Linked DNA regions of Homo sapiens: region 2 is linked to region 1. The links come from fine-mapping of genetic effects on gene expression. Tissue or cell type: aorta. Region 1 holds a variant in brackets; the other region holds the start of a gene. All regions are shown on one strand. Distances are from middle to middle.

Evidence for each region. PIP is the estimated chance that this variant, and not a neighbour inherited with it, causes the effect.
Region 2: it holds the start of DOCK1, and the variant in region 1 is fine-mapped to the expression of DOCK1 in aorta (GTEx, PIP 0.98). The same link has a PIP of 0.9 or more in esophagus muscle.

Annotation. Positions count from the first base shown.
Region 1 is chr10:127,448,304-127,453,857 of GRCh38, forward strand. It overlaps DOCK1 (dedicator of cytokinesis 1), which reads left to right. Exons shown (of 52, transcript NM_001290223.2): 52 at 3,029-4,213. The coding sequence ends at 3,124. Among named protein-coding and RNA genes, the nearest start is that of NPS, 98 kb to the right of the region's middle. The variant C/T (reference allele first, on the strand shown) is at 3,109.
Region 2 is chr10:126,902,146-126,907,699 of GRCh38, forward strand. DOCK1 (dedicator of cytokinesis 1) reads left to right here and starts at 3,283. Exons shown (of 52, transcript NM_001290223.2): 1 at 3,283-3,418. The coding sequence starts at 3,373. LOC105378550 (a long non-coding RNA gene) reads right to left here and starts at 3,233. Exons shown (of 2, transcript XR_946449.3): 1 at 2,415-3,233; 2 at 1-2,297. It overlaps LOC124900289 (a long non-coding RNA gene), which reads left to right and starts at 3,586. Exons shown (of 2, transcript XR_007062336.1): 1 at 3,586-5,554. RefSeq lists an enhancer at 4,304-5,052.

The sequences.
Region 1 (5,554 bases):
GCCAAACAGCCCCTGGGCCTGCCTGCCCGTACAAATATTAGTCAAAGTCATGAAAAGCCATTTAAACAAGCACCTCAGTTACCAGTTGACAGTTCTAGAAACATTCTTTTGAGATCCACCCCGTTCCTCTCCTGGTTCTCAAGGATGCTGTCAGGCGTCACTCATCCCTGCGGGTCCCAGCCCCATCCTCATGTCGGGCCCAGGCATGTGTGGAGGGCAGCATGAGTGGGATGGAGGCGGGCGAGCGATTGACTCAGCCACGGCGGGAACTTCTGCTTCTAGGCTCAGGCCTCCCCAGGCCATGTTATTCACAGCCTTTGACAATTAAATCAGTGGTGTCTGAAGGGTAAAATATCCCTCTTCATATGTGGACAGCTGGCCGTATTTTTTTTGCTATCCAGCCTTAGTGAAGTAATTATATGGCCGCAAAACTCCTGTAGAACATTGAAAACATGAGATTGTTGGGTGGCTCTGTTTTTTTCATAATGGTGAGACATGGTTTTTTTTTTTATTTTTCTTTAATAAACAATATAAATCCCACGTGCCATTTCTTTTTCTTTTTTTTTAATGGAGACTCGTTGACGGAGTGTTCCACAAGGTCATTACATCCCTTATGAGAGGAGTGGAAGAGAGAGGGTGTTTGTGTACAGCATACGTATTTCATCATTCCCTTTGTATCAGAAAACTAAACAAGCAGTCATCTTTAATATCAAAGAGGCAGATTGCTCTTCTGAGACCCAAGTGCCATTTAAACAGGCTCCCTCTCCCTAGAGACGCCTCGATGGGGAACCGGTCCTGGAGGAGGCACCAGGTTCCCCTGTGAAGAGGGCTTTCTGGCAGGCTGGAATGGTTTGTTGCACCACAGAAATGGAAGCCGGACCTTCCCCGGCCATTTCTAACTACTTGTGAGAGTAAAAGGAGATTCGGGGGGGTCTAACAAGAATATTGGGTTGCTTGGAGTATTGTTTCCCTAACAGCTTCGTTAATTGGTCACATTCTCTTCTCTCTATTTTATTGCAAAGGCAGGAATGTTCCCCCTAGTCTCCCTACACTAGTAAACTGAAAATTCTAAACTTAGAATTACAGCCAATTCCTCTTCTTGTTACAAATCAACTCCGGGGTAACATTTTATTGTCTCAATTTCTTGGATACACCATTGTGGGTTACTGATGCCACATACAGTTGATTAAGTAAGGGATAACATGGATTAGCTCTCTCTCAATTGATAAAGGGCGTGTGAATTCAATTAGATTAATGACCCAGGTGTCTTTGGTCTTTGTTTCTTGTTTAATTTACTTGCAGCCTGAGTGCATGCTCAGGTGACACGCTGGTGGTTAGTATGTCATCATTAGGCAGAAGCGGTTGCATTTCCTGGGGTGCCTCCCTTTGCACAGGCCCTGAGAGCTGTTCTAGGATAATGATCATCCATCTGCCATGATGGGGGTGTGATCAATATCCTCCTGTCACTCTCATTGATCAGCCTCAGGCTTGTAGGCAACTCTGTCTTTAGTTGTTGCCACTAAGCTGTCATTTCTTTCCAAATGGCTCTTCCTGTCAGTAATCTGAGCTTACTGAGTTTATCACCATTAATCATTTTGCTTAATGGTGATAAACTTTTGACATGCTCATACTTGGCATAGAGGTCATTTGCAGCGCTGTGTTGGTATCAGGCTGTGTTAGTGTGGTCCTTACCTGCTCCTCATTGGCCTATCAGTGAGTGTGGCTTTCACATGTAAACAAACAGTTTCATCAGACCTCAAAATAGATGTCTCTTTTAACGGTTCTAACCAACCTTAAAAAGACTTAATTGTTGTTTTACCTTCCTTAATATAAGGTCATACACTCATAGGACATCTTTATATCAGCTTTACTTTTCCACATTTATTCTCCTCTCTGTGTTAAGCATTAGGTCATTTTTGTATTTACTAGTCTGTGAATCAGGAGGAAATCTGGGCGATGAGTGAGAGACTACTGCGTCACTGTCTATCCTTGAAAACCTCTTTTCTCACATTCAGCTAAATGCAAACCCACACTGAGAGGCTGATAAAAATCCACTCTTACCCTTAAGTTAGACGATAGTGTTCTGTGATTTCATTCTGGTTCTTCTGCCTGTGGCATGCTCCCACTTACCCTGGTCTGTTCACTTCTTCATTCATTTGTTTACTTACCTGTTCATTTCTTCATTTATCCACTGACTCGTTTATTCACTCATTCATTTATTCACTCATTCATCCATTTTTCTATTCGATTGACCCATATTTCTAGAGAGTCTCCTGCACATCAGGTGTGTGTGATGGGCATGAGGGTCCCAAAAGCAATAGGGTGCAGCTGCCCTCAGTCATAACACTCCAGCCAGGTCCATCAGCAAGGGGTTTGCTATTATCTTCACATTGGAAATTAATGTTCTTTTTTGGAATCTAAAGTAATATATGCCCATGAGCTGAAGCCAGCCAGCCAGCCACCTGTTTCTGTGAATAGTTTTCTTGGAACACAGCCACACCCCTTTCTGTACACACTGTCAATGACCGCTTTTCGGCCACACCAGTGGCATTGAGTGGCTGCAACAGAGACCGTGTGGCCTGCCAAAAAGCTGGAAATATGTACTGTCTAGCCCTTTCCAGGAGAAGCTTGCTAACCTTTGCCCGAAGCTCAGAAAGCAAAAGAAGGTCTCTCATCTCACCCCTGGAGAGTGCCTCTAAGGACTTATTTATCCCTTAGACAATAGATGGATAACTTGGTCGATAGCATCTAGATTTAAAAAGGCCACGCAAAGGGCAATGGTACCTCTCAGGGGCTGTGCAGACGGTGGGAGAGTGCTCAGAGGCGTCAGAAAGGCCCAGGCCCATAGCAGCCCAGTCTTGAGCCTAGTAGACCTGCCAGCCCCAAGTCGGACAGGATGGAGCCCAACTCATGTGGGGAGGATGGTTCCGGCTGAGTGGCTGTGCCAGGTCAGACCCCACCTGGAGACGGTGTCTTTTCTGTCAGGACATCAGTTATGTGACATCTTCCCCATCCTCATGTTTTTTAGCATCTGCCACCTCCACTGCCCAGCAAAACTCCGCCTCCTCCCCCTCCAAAGACAACTCGCAAGCAGGCATCGGTGGACTC[C/T]GGGATCGTGCAGTGACGTCGCAAGCCTCTCTGGAAAGAGTGTGCTGCCCCTCCCCATCTCCATGCCCTCTCCTTCTGTGTCCCCTGAGTCTGCTGTTTACCTCATTGGGCCTGTGATGTTAACATTTCGTGCGACTGCTTTTTCTTCAAAGGAGTTCAGTTCTCACCATGGAGTGAGTGGCCTTTAGCGTCATGGAGCAAGGTGGGTCTGGGAGGTAGATATGGGTCCGGGATGTGCTATCGTAGTTATCAGAGTTGGGGGCCTCTGAGTGTGTCTGGCTCTGAGAGAGTCTGAGTCTTGCCCAAACATTCTTTCTTTTTGTGCCAAATGACTTGCATTTGCAAAGAGCTCAATTGCTCTGAGCTCAGCCAAGTAGGAGAGGCTAGGCCATCACTCTTAGGAAGCTGTGTAGTGATGATGTATAAGAATCCTCCTCACTGTCATGGGATGTTGTATCCAGCCCCTCCTTGTTCCAGCCGGTGGTGTGACTTCGTTGGTTGAGGTGTGTCTCCAACCTACATCAGACCATGAAGTTCAACCCCTCCAGGGAAGCTCCTGATTTCCCCTGCATAATTGAAAATAGGATATTTCTCAGCTATTGAACAGTTACTAATTTATGGGGTGGAAACAGCATTAAGAATACTGAATCAAATGGAAAAACAAATGAATACAGGAAGATAAGTGTTCGTTCTTTTCTGAAAAAGAGTATGTGTACCACAAGAGCTGGTTTTAATTGGGTGAATTGTTTTTGTCCTCATTCTGTACAGAAATTTGTATATATGATGGTTCTTAGAACTTGTTTTAATTTTTGTGGTCCTTCCGTTTATTATAATAGGCGTCCACCAATGATTATCCATATGTGTTCTTAATTTTTAACTGCTGGAAGTGTTAAAACACACACACACACACACACACATTTTTTTTTTGAGAACTCCAAAGTCCTGAAAATTTTGGTGGACAATGATTTTTAAAAAACTAACTTTGTATAACCTAATATTTGTATTCTCTCATCTATATTTTTTTATTCACTATAATCATGATACTCTTCTAATAGACTTAAAAGTTAATCATTGACAACGAAAAATAAAATGTTATTTTAAAAGACTCACAGTGTCTGACCAATTATGTTTTCATCCTTGATTGTAAAATACAGACGCTGCTGTTTCTGTTCTGCTATGTTAAAGTGCTTGGTGACACACATTTATATATGCACCTCTTCCTCCAACATTGTTTTTAATCCTCTCTGTTAATTGTGTCTGATCTGGAGCCCAGATGGGAAGTGCCCGTGTCCCGTGCATGGCTGCATGTCCTGATAGACAGGAGCTAAGCAGAGACCAGCTGAGTGCTTCCCCATCACCAAAGCCAGAGGGCTGTGGGGCTGCAGATCATGTGGGCCTCTTTTCAGCTGCTAATTTAAGAAAGGGCTTTGGTTAATGGGTGTGTGATTTAGCTGTAGAGGTCTGGACATGGAGAGCTTTCTCCAGGGCCTATCTGGCTGGATCTGGGGTGGCAAGAAACAAGGAAGGCAGGGGGTTCTCTTCTCAATGGACGGGGCTCTCACCTCTGCTCCTGCCAGACGTGTGGAAGCCATAAGGATGTGCCCTCTGCCCATCTAACCCGGCCTAGAAGGAGGCTGCTGTGGAGCCCAGGAAGCTGGGAGGCTCTTCCTCCTACTCAGGTGCTGTCCCCAGCGTATTCATGCTTGTAAATATCCAGTCCACCCCTGAGAAACTGTAGGCCTGTGTGAATGTGGGATTTTTTTCTTCAAGAATCTTTACTGTTTCAACTGTTGCACCAAGATAAATATTCATCTTCTGTCGAGTGTGTGAGAAACTGAATATTATCCACAACCCTAGAAATCATCGAATGGGCACACCCATGTAGGCGACCACGGAGAGCCCAGCCTGGGGACAGGTTGTTTTTGGGCAGTCTGTGCCTCACATTGTATAAGCGGCCACCAGAAACGGAAAGAATAGGCCGGGCGCAGTGGCTCACACCTGTAATCCCAGCACTTTGGGAGGCTGAGGCGGGCGGATCAGCTGAGGTCAGGAGTTCAAGACCAGCCTGGCCAACACGGTGAAACCCCATCTCTACTAAAAATACAAAAATTGGCCGGGCATGGTGGCAAGCGCCTGCCATCCGGTAGGCTGAGGCAGGAGAATTGTTTGAACCTGGGAGGCAGAGGTTGCAGTAGCTGAGATTGCACCATTGCACTCCAGCCTGGGCGACAAGAGCGAGAAATCTGTCTCCGTCTCTATCTCCATCTATAAAAATAAAATAAAAGTATTTATTTTTATAAATATAATTGTATTTATAAAAAATAAAAATTATAAAATTTATAAAATGATATAAAATATAATTGTATTTATAAAAAAATAAAAACACAGAAAGAATAGTGCCTGGCCCTGTGATAAATGATGGTTTTCTTGTGGAATGACGTGTGGG
Region 2 (5,554 bases), 550 kb before region 1:
AGATTTAAAACTGTAATATTGATTGTGTTCTTCATGGCCCCAAAGCAAGATTCTGTTGTATCTTGGAGGAGGGGGGTCACTACTCTGAAATCCCAGTGATGGGCAGCACTGAGCAACTGAGAGCCTCAGCATTCTTGGGCTTGTTCACACCCACAAGCTTGGCACAGATCCAAGTCCTGCAAGATGCCTGGGAGGGCAACTGAGACCTGTGGCCCAGCCACATTGACTCAGGAGGTAAAAATGTCAACAGGCCACAACCTCCAGGGCTCCTGGAATTGGAGACGAAGCCAGTTCTGAGCTTATGCAACCATAGGACAGTGAGAGAGGGCCATGGACTCGATTTAGAGCCACAAGATGAGAGCACTGCTGGAGCACCGTGGGGATGCTGACAAATCTTCTCAGGGCTTCAAGGACCGTGGCTACAGGTACATCTCAGCCAAACTTGGGCACATGTTGCAATCAAGGGACTGAAGCTACAACCACCTGGCCCGTGGTCCACCTGGAGTTTTGTTTTGTTTGTTTTTGAGATGGAGTCTCACTCTGTCACCCAGGCAGGAGTGCAGCGGTGCGATCTTGCTTCACTGCAATCTCCACCTCCTGGGTTCAAACAATTCTCCTGCCTCAGCCTCCTGAGTAGCTGGGACTACAGGTATGCGCACCCACGCCCAGCTAATTTTTGTATTTTTAGTACAGACAGGGTTTCTACTAAAACCCTGGTTGGCCAGGCTGACCTCGAGCTCCTGACCTCAAGTGATCTGCCTGCCTCAGCCTCCCAAAATGCTGGCTGGGATTACAAGCATGGGCCACTGTGCCCGGCCCCACCTGGAGTTTTAAAATTCTGATTTATAAATTTATTATATGACAGTCTACCAAAAGTATGCAAATCCGGCACTACACTTATTTATGCATTCAGTGAGTCACCTTTATCTGAGTGCAAGTGGCAACTGTTCTAGAAAATGGGAACCATGAGGTTATCAAAGAACCTGGAGGTAGGGTCAGATGAGGAAGCACATCATTATGATGTCTTACACATGCAGTCATGTCTCCTCTTATAATCCTAAGACTCACCTGTGAGATTCCTATTACAGCCCCTAGTTTACATGTAGGAATATCAGAACCCCAAGGTTTAGAAACAGAACGGCCAGAAACAGGAGGAGGATGGCCATGCAGCTGGGCGTGGCAAGGCCAGGCCTCCCAAGTCTGCATGACTCTTAAGCTCCTGGCCATTCGTTACAGCACGCCATCTCCAATGCAGAATCACACCAACAGAACTGAAACTGCACATTAAAGAGAAGGCGAGTGTCACCAAAATCTGTTTCCCAGGCTTCTTTGCAGAATTCCAAATTCCTAGCACGACCAATAAGGCCCTTCTTCTACCTCTGCAGCCTCAATTTATGTCACTTTCCTGTTGTTCCCTATGCTTCGGCCATCCTGGCCTTTCTGTGCTCTGAAGGAGTGGTGCTCCTTCCTAAACCAGGGCCTTTTCACGTGCTGTTCCCACTCCAGTTCACCTAGCTGGTTTCTGCTTATCCTTAAAGTCTGGGTTTATCTTATTTCCTCAAGGGAGGCCTCCCTGCTCTGGAGCAGGTCAGGCCACCATGTCCTTTACCGTAGAGCACCCTACTTGTCCTGGACAGCACCTTCACAGATGCTTCTCCTTCAAGGGGTCAGAGTCACCAGGCCACCACTACAGCGCCTGAGCCCCGGAGGTTTCTGATTTCCACAGAAAGCTTCAAGTGCATGCTGTGTGTGAGTGAGCCTGGCCACTTCCTCTGTGGGACTTCAGTTCCTTATCAGTAAAACAGAGCCCGTGGCTTTCCATGAATGTGGGGTTGACTTACCAGAATGCTCAGGTCCCACGTTATCCTCTTGAACGCAGCAGCTTTCCTCTAACCCACGAAAATGGAAAAGCTCCTGTGCCATTCCCAAATACTTATTTAATCTGCATTCTGGGTGGCCCCTAGGGCAGGTGACGGGCATTCTCTACCGCAGGATGGTGCCCCACCTGGTCCTCCCCAGGCCCTGTGGCCATCCTGGCCACCTCCCTGTGGGCTCTCCCAGCCCTGCTGTTCAGCACTGTCCCTACCTCACAGAGGTAGGGACCTCTTTTTCTTACCTTCTTCCTTTTCTTACCTTCGTTCCTCCAATCCCTGACGGCCCCCAGACCTACTGTAGTTGTCTCTGTGTCTTCGGAGAGAAGACACCCCATTAATGTGCCATGAAACCAAATTTATTCCATTTAAAGGGCTGCCTTCATTCGGAGGCTTTGTCCATGTCTTGGTTTTAACCTCTCTTTTCTGAAATTACAGTAAAAATAAATAGGTGTGTGTTGCTTTAACTTTTCCCTTGGAGAAATCTGAAGCCCCCACCTTTTACTGTCATGGGAAACACCAGGGCCTGAGAAGAACTCCCACCTCGGGCGAGGATGCCGTTCCTGAGCCCCACGCGTGGCCTGGGCTTTCCTTTCCCTACTTCTCTCTTCCCCCGACTTCAGCAGATCCTGAGTCCCACAACTATTCTAGCATTAGCTTCTGCAAGCCCAGCTGGGCTGAGGTTTCTGCGGCTGCTTCCTCTTGGTCTCTCTGGAAAACTCCACTCATTCAGCACCCAAGCAAGAGGTCACCTGTCTGGAACGCACTCCCTCGGCAGCGCTGTGCCACCTCTTTCCACCCCATTTGAGTGGCCGGCACTTACCTGTGCTGTTTGTTACCTGACGTGTCCCTTCTCCCACCTACCAGGCAGTTGGTGCGGCGCTCCCAGCACACTCGGGCAATGAGTGGGCAGGCGCTCAGGTAACGTTTGTCGAATGAATGAATGAGCCACGTGCTCAGGAGGACCCTTTCCAGAGCCTCTGCTGGTTTGTTCTGCTCCGGGACTCTCCACCAGGGAGAAATCCGAGCTGGGGACCTCGCACCACCAGGCTCCGGCCTAAGCCCGCGCCTTGCAAGCCGCCCGTTTCCTACCTCCCGTAGAAACCCCCCGTCCGTCCCGCCCCCCTAAGGGCGCACCCCTCTCACGGCGTGAGCGCCAGCCCCGGGAGCTCCAGGAACTCAGGAGAACCCCGCGGGGGTGCCCGGGTGCGGAGCGCGGGGCTGGGCGCACTGGGACAGAGGAAGGGGAGCCCCGGCGACCGCGGGGTCGGGGCCCAGGGTCCGCGCCGAGGGCGGGCGCAGAGCCCGCGGCCGTCCCGCCTCCCGCCGGCGCTCCCGGCCTTTCCCATCCGGCCCGCGACGCTCCGCCCGCCCCGTCCCACATGACGCCGCCTCCGCCGCAAACTTTTTCCTCCCCATCCTGTCGCGGCTCGAAAGGAATGGAAAATGGCGGCCTAGACGCGGAGTTTCCTGCCCGACCCGCGGCGGCTCCGGCGGCGCCATGACGCGCTGGGTGCCCACCAAGCGCGAGGAGAAGTACGGCGTGGGTGAGCAGCGCCGCCGCCGCCGCGCCTCTCGCCCCAAGCCCAGGCTCCGGCGGGGCGGGTGTGCCGGGCGCCTGTTGCCGCCGCCCCGAGCGGCCGCCGGGCCGGGGAGAGGCGCTTCCGCCCGCGCCCGCGCCGCCGCCCCGCTCGCAATGCCCGGCGACCCCGGCCGCCCCGCGCCCCCGGCGGCGTCAGCTCCAGCCCCGGGGATGCGGGTCGGGAACACGAGGGGGTGGGGTGGGAATGGGGGCGGGCGCGTCCCTCCCTAGGGTGTCCCCTCCGACGCCCGCTCCTCTGGACCTCTGCCGTGGAGCCCCCCGGGCTACCCCCAACTCCCCGGCCCCGGCCGCTGCTATCTGCGCGGCTGGGCCCGTCAGGGAAGCCCAGGGGTCACTGTCTCGCGGCGGCTTCTGCTTCTTGGATGAACTTGCGTCCCGCGTCCGGGCTCTGGGTGGGCGGGCTCAGGTCGGCGCGGTCCCAGCGGATAATTCCGCCCTTTCCCGGCGGGGAGGAGGGGGCGCGACCTGGGTGGCCAGCGCCCCTTGCCCCTCGGCGGTCTCGCTGGGGACCGTGTGGGACCTTGGAGAGAAGGCGAGCGGCCGAGCGCCCCAGTGGCCCCAGGCCTGGAGACCCTTCCGGGAGAGCGGGGGCCTGTTTTTGCTCCGCGGCTCTTTGTCGCTTCCGAGGGGGGATGGAAGGAGTCGGGTTGCAAGTTTACATTTCGGACCCGAGTGCGCATTCCTGAGAGGGAGGCTTTCCCTTGCGGCTGAATAGACGGGCCCGTCCGCGTGGGACCCGCATCCTTGCGCCCCGGGGACCCGCAGCCGGTCGCCGAGGCCTGCGGACGCCCACCTCTTCGTGATCTGCGCGCCTGGTGTCGGGACTGGGCCGTGGCTACTCTCCTGCTCTCCCGGGTCCGGGATCTTCCCAGTTGGTTTTCGGGCTTGCTATTCCCCGTCCCACCATCCACAGACATCCTTGACCGCCTGCCTCATCCAGGCCACTCGACCCGACTGGGAAGACCTTTGGTGGTCTCGCCTCCCACAGCCCAGGCTGTGTCCTCCAAGGGCACCGTCTCAGCAGCAGCCCCGCGCCCATTCTGTGCCTGGCCCGTGCTGGACCTGCCCGACCCTCTGCTGGTGTGGTTCGAATCCTGGCTCTCTGACTTTTGGGAAGCGCCCTGGCAGCCCTTGTCCCCGGAGCGCTCTCCTTTCTGTGAACAGTTGCTTCTCTCTGCTGTCAATGACTTACAGTATGCCCTGACCACGGAGCCAGCTGGACAGTGGTCACGGGGACAGTCCTGGGACAGCCCTGGGTCCTACCGGGCCTGCACTTAGCTTGTTCCACATGCTGGGAGGCATAGGGGGCCTCCTTGCTTCAGGACCATTATGACTGAGCTTCCTCCCCATCTCCCCATTTTGCAGATGAGGAAACTGAGGCCCAGACACATTCACAAAAGTGCAGGAGAGCTCATCTGACTGCAGACTCAGTGTGTAACCTGCACCCTGTGCACCACCTAATGGATTCAGTCTGGGGCACTTGGCACGGGCCTTCAGTCTGCATCAGAGGCGAGAGGTTCGGGGTGGATATTCCACCTGAGAATGCTTGGGTTGTGGCGACAGTGGGGGTCCCTGCGGGGGTAGTGTGTAGAGGAGAGAGCTGAGGACTGACTCCCAGGGAACCTAGCACCAGCACACGCAGAGAGAGAGGAAGAGGTGGATAGGCAGGAGAGGCAGGAGGCTGGCAGAGGAGCAGGCATCCCATAGCCCTGGCCCTGCTGAGGAAGCAACTTAGGTGCCCATGGCCAGGGTGCAGTAGTGGCCATTGGGGGTGTAGTGGGGGCCATCGGGGTGCAGTGGGGGCCATCACTGCTCCCATTCTACAGAGGCAAGGAAGAGGTGGATTGCTTGCCTGAGGTCACATCACCAGTAAGTGGTGCCTCCTGGGTGTGAAGTGTGGCCGCCCTGGGTTCAGCTGCCACAGTGTCCTGTGCTTGCCTGCAGATGGGGAGGGCTTCTCTTTGGGACGCCACATTTTAAGAGACCTTGTTACCCTTCGTCTGCCCCCAGAGAGACCTGGATGGTGTCAGTTAGGATCCTATAGTGTAGCTGGATGGTCTGGAGAAGACTGAAAAGAATG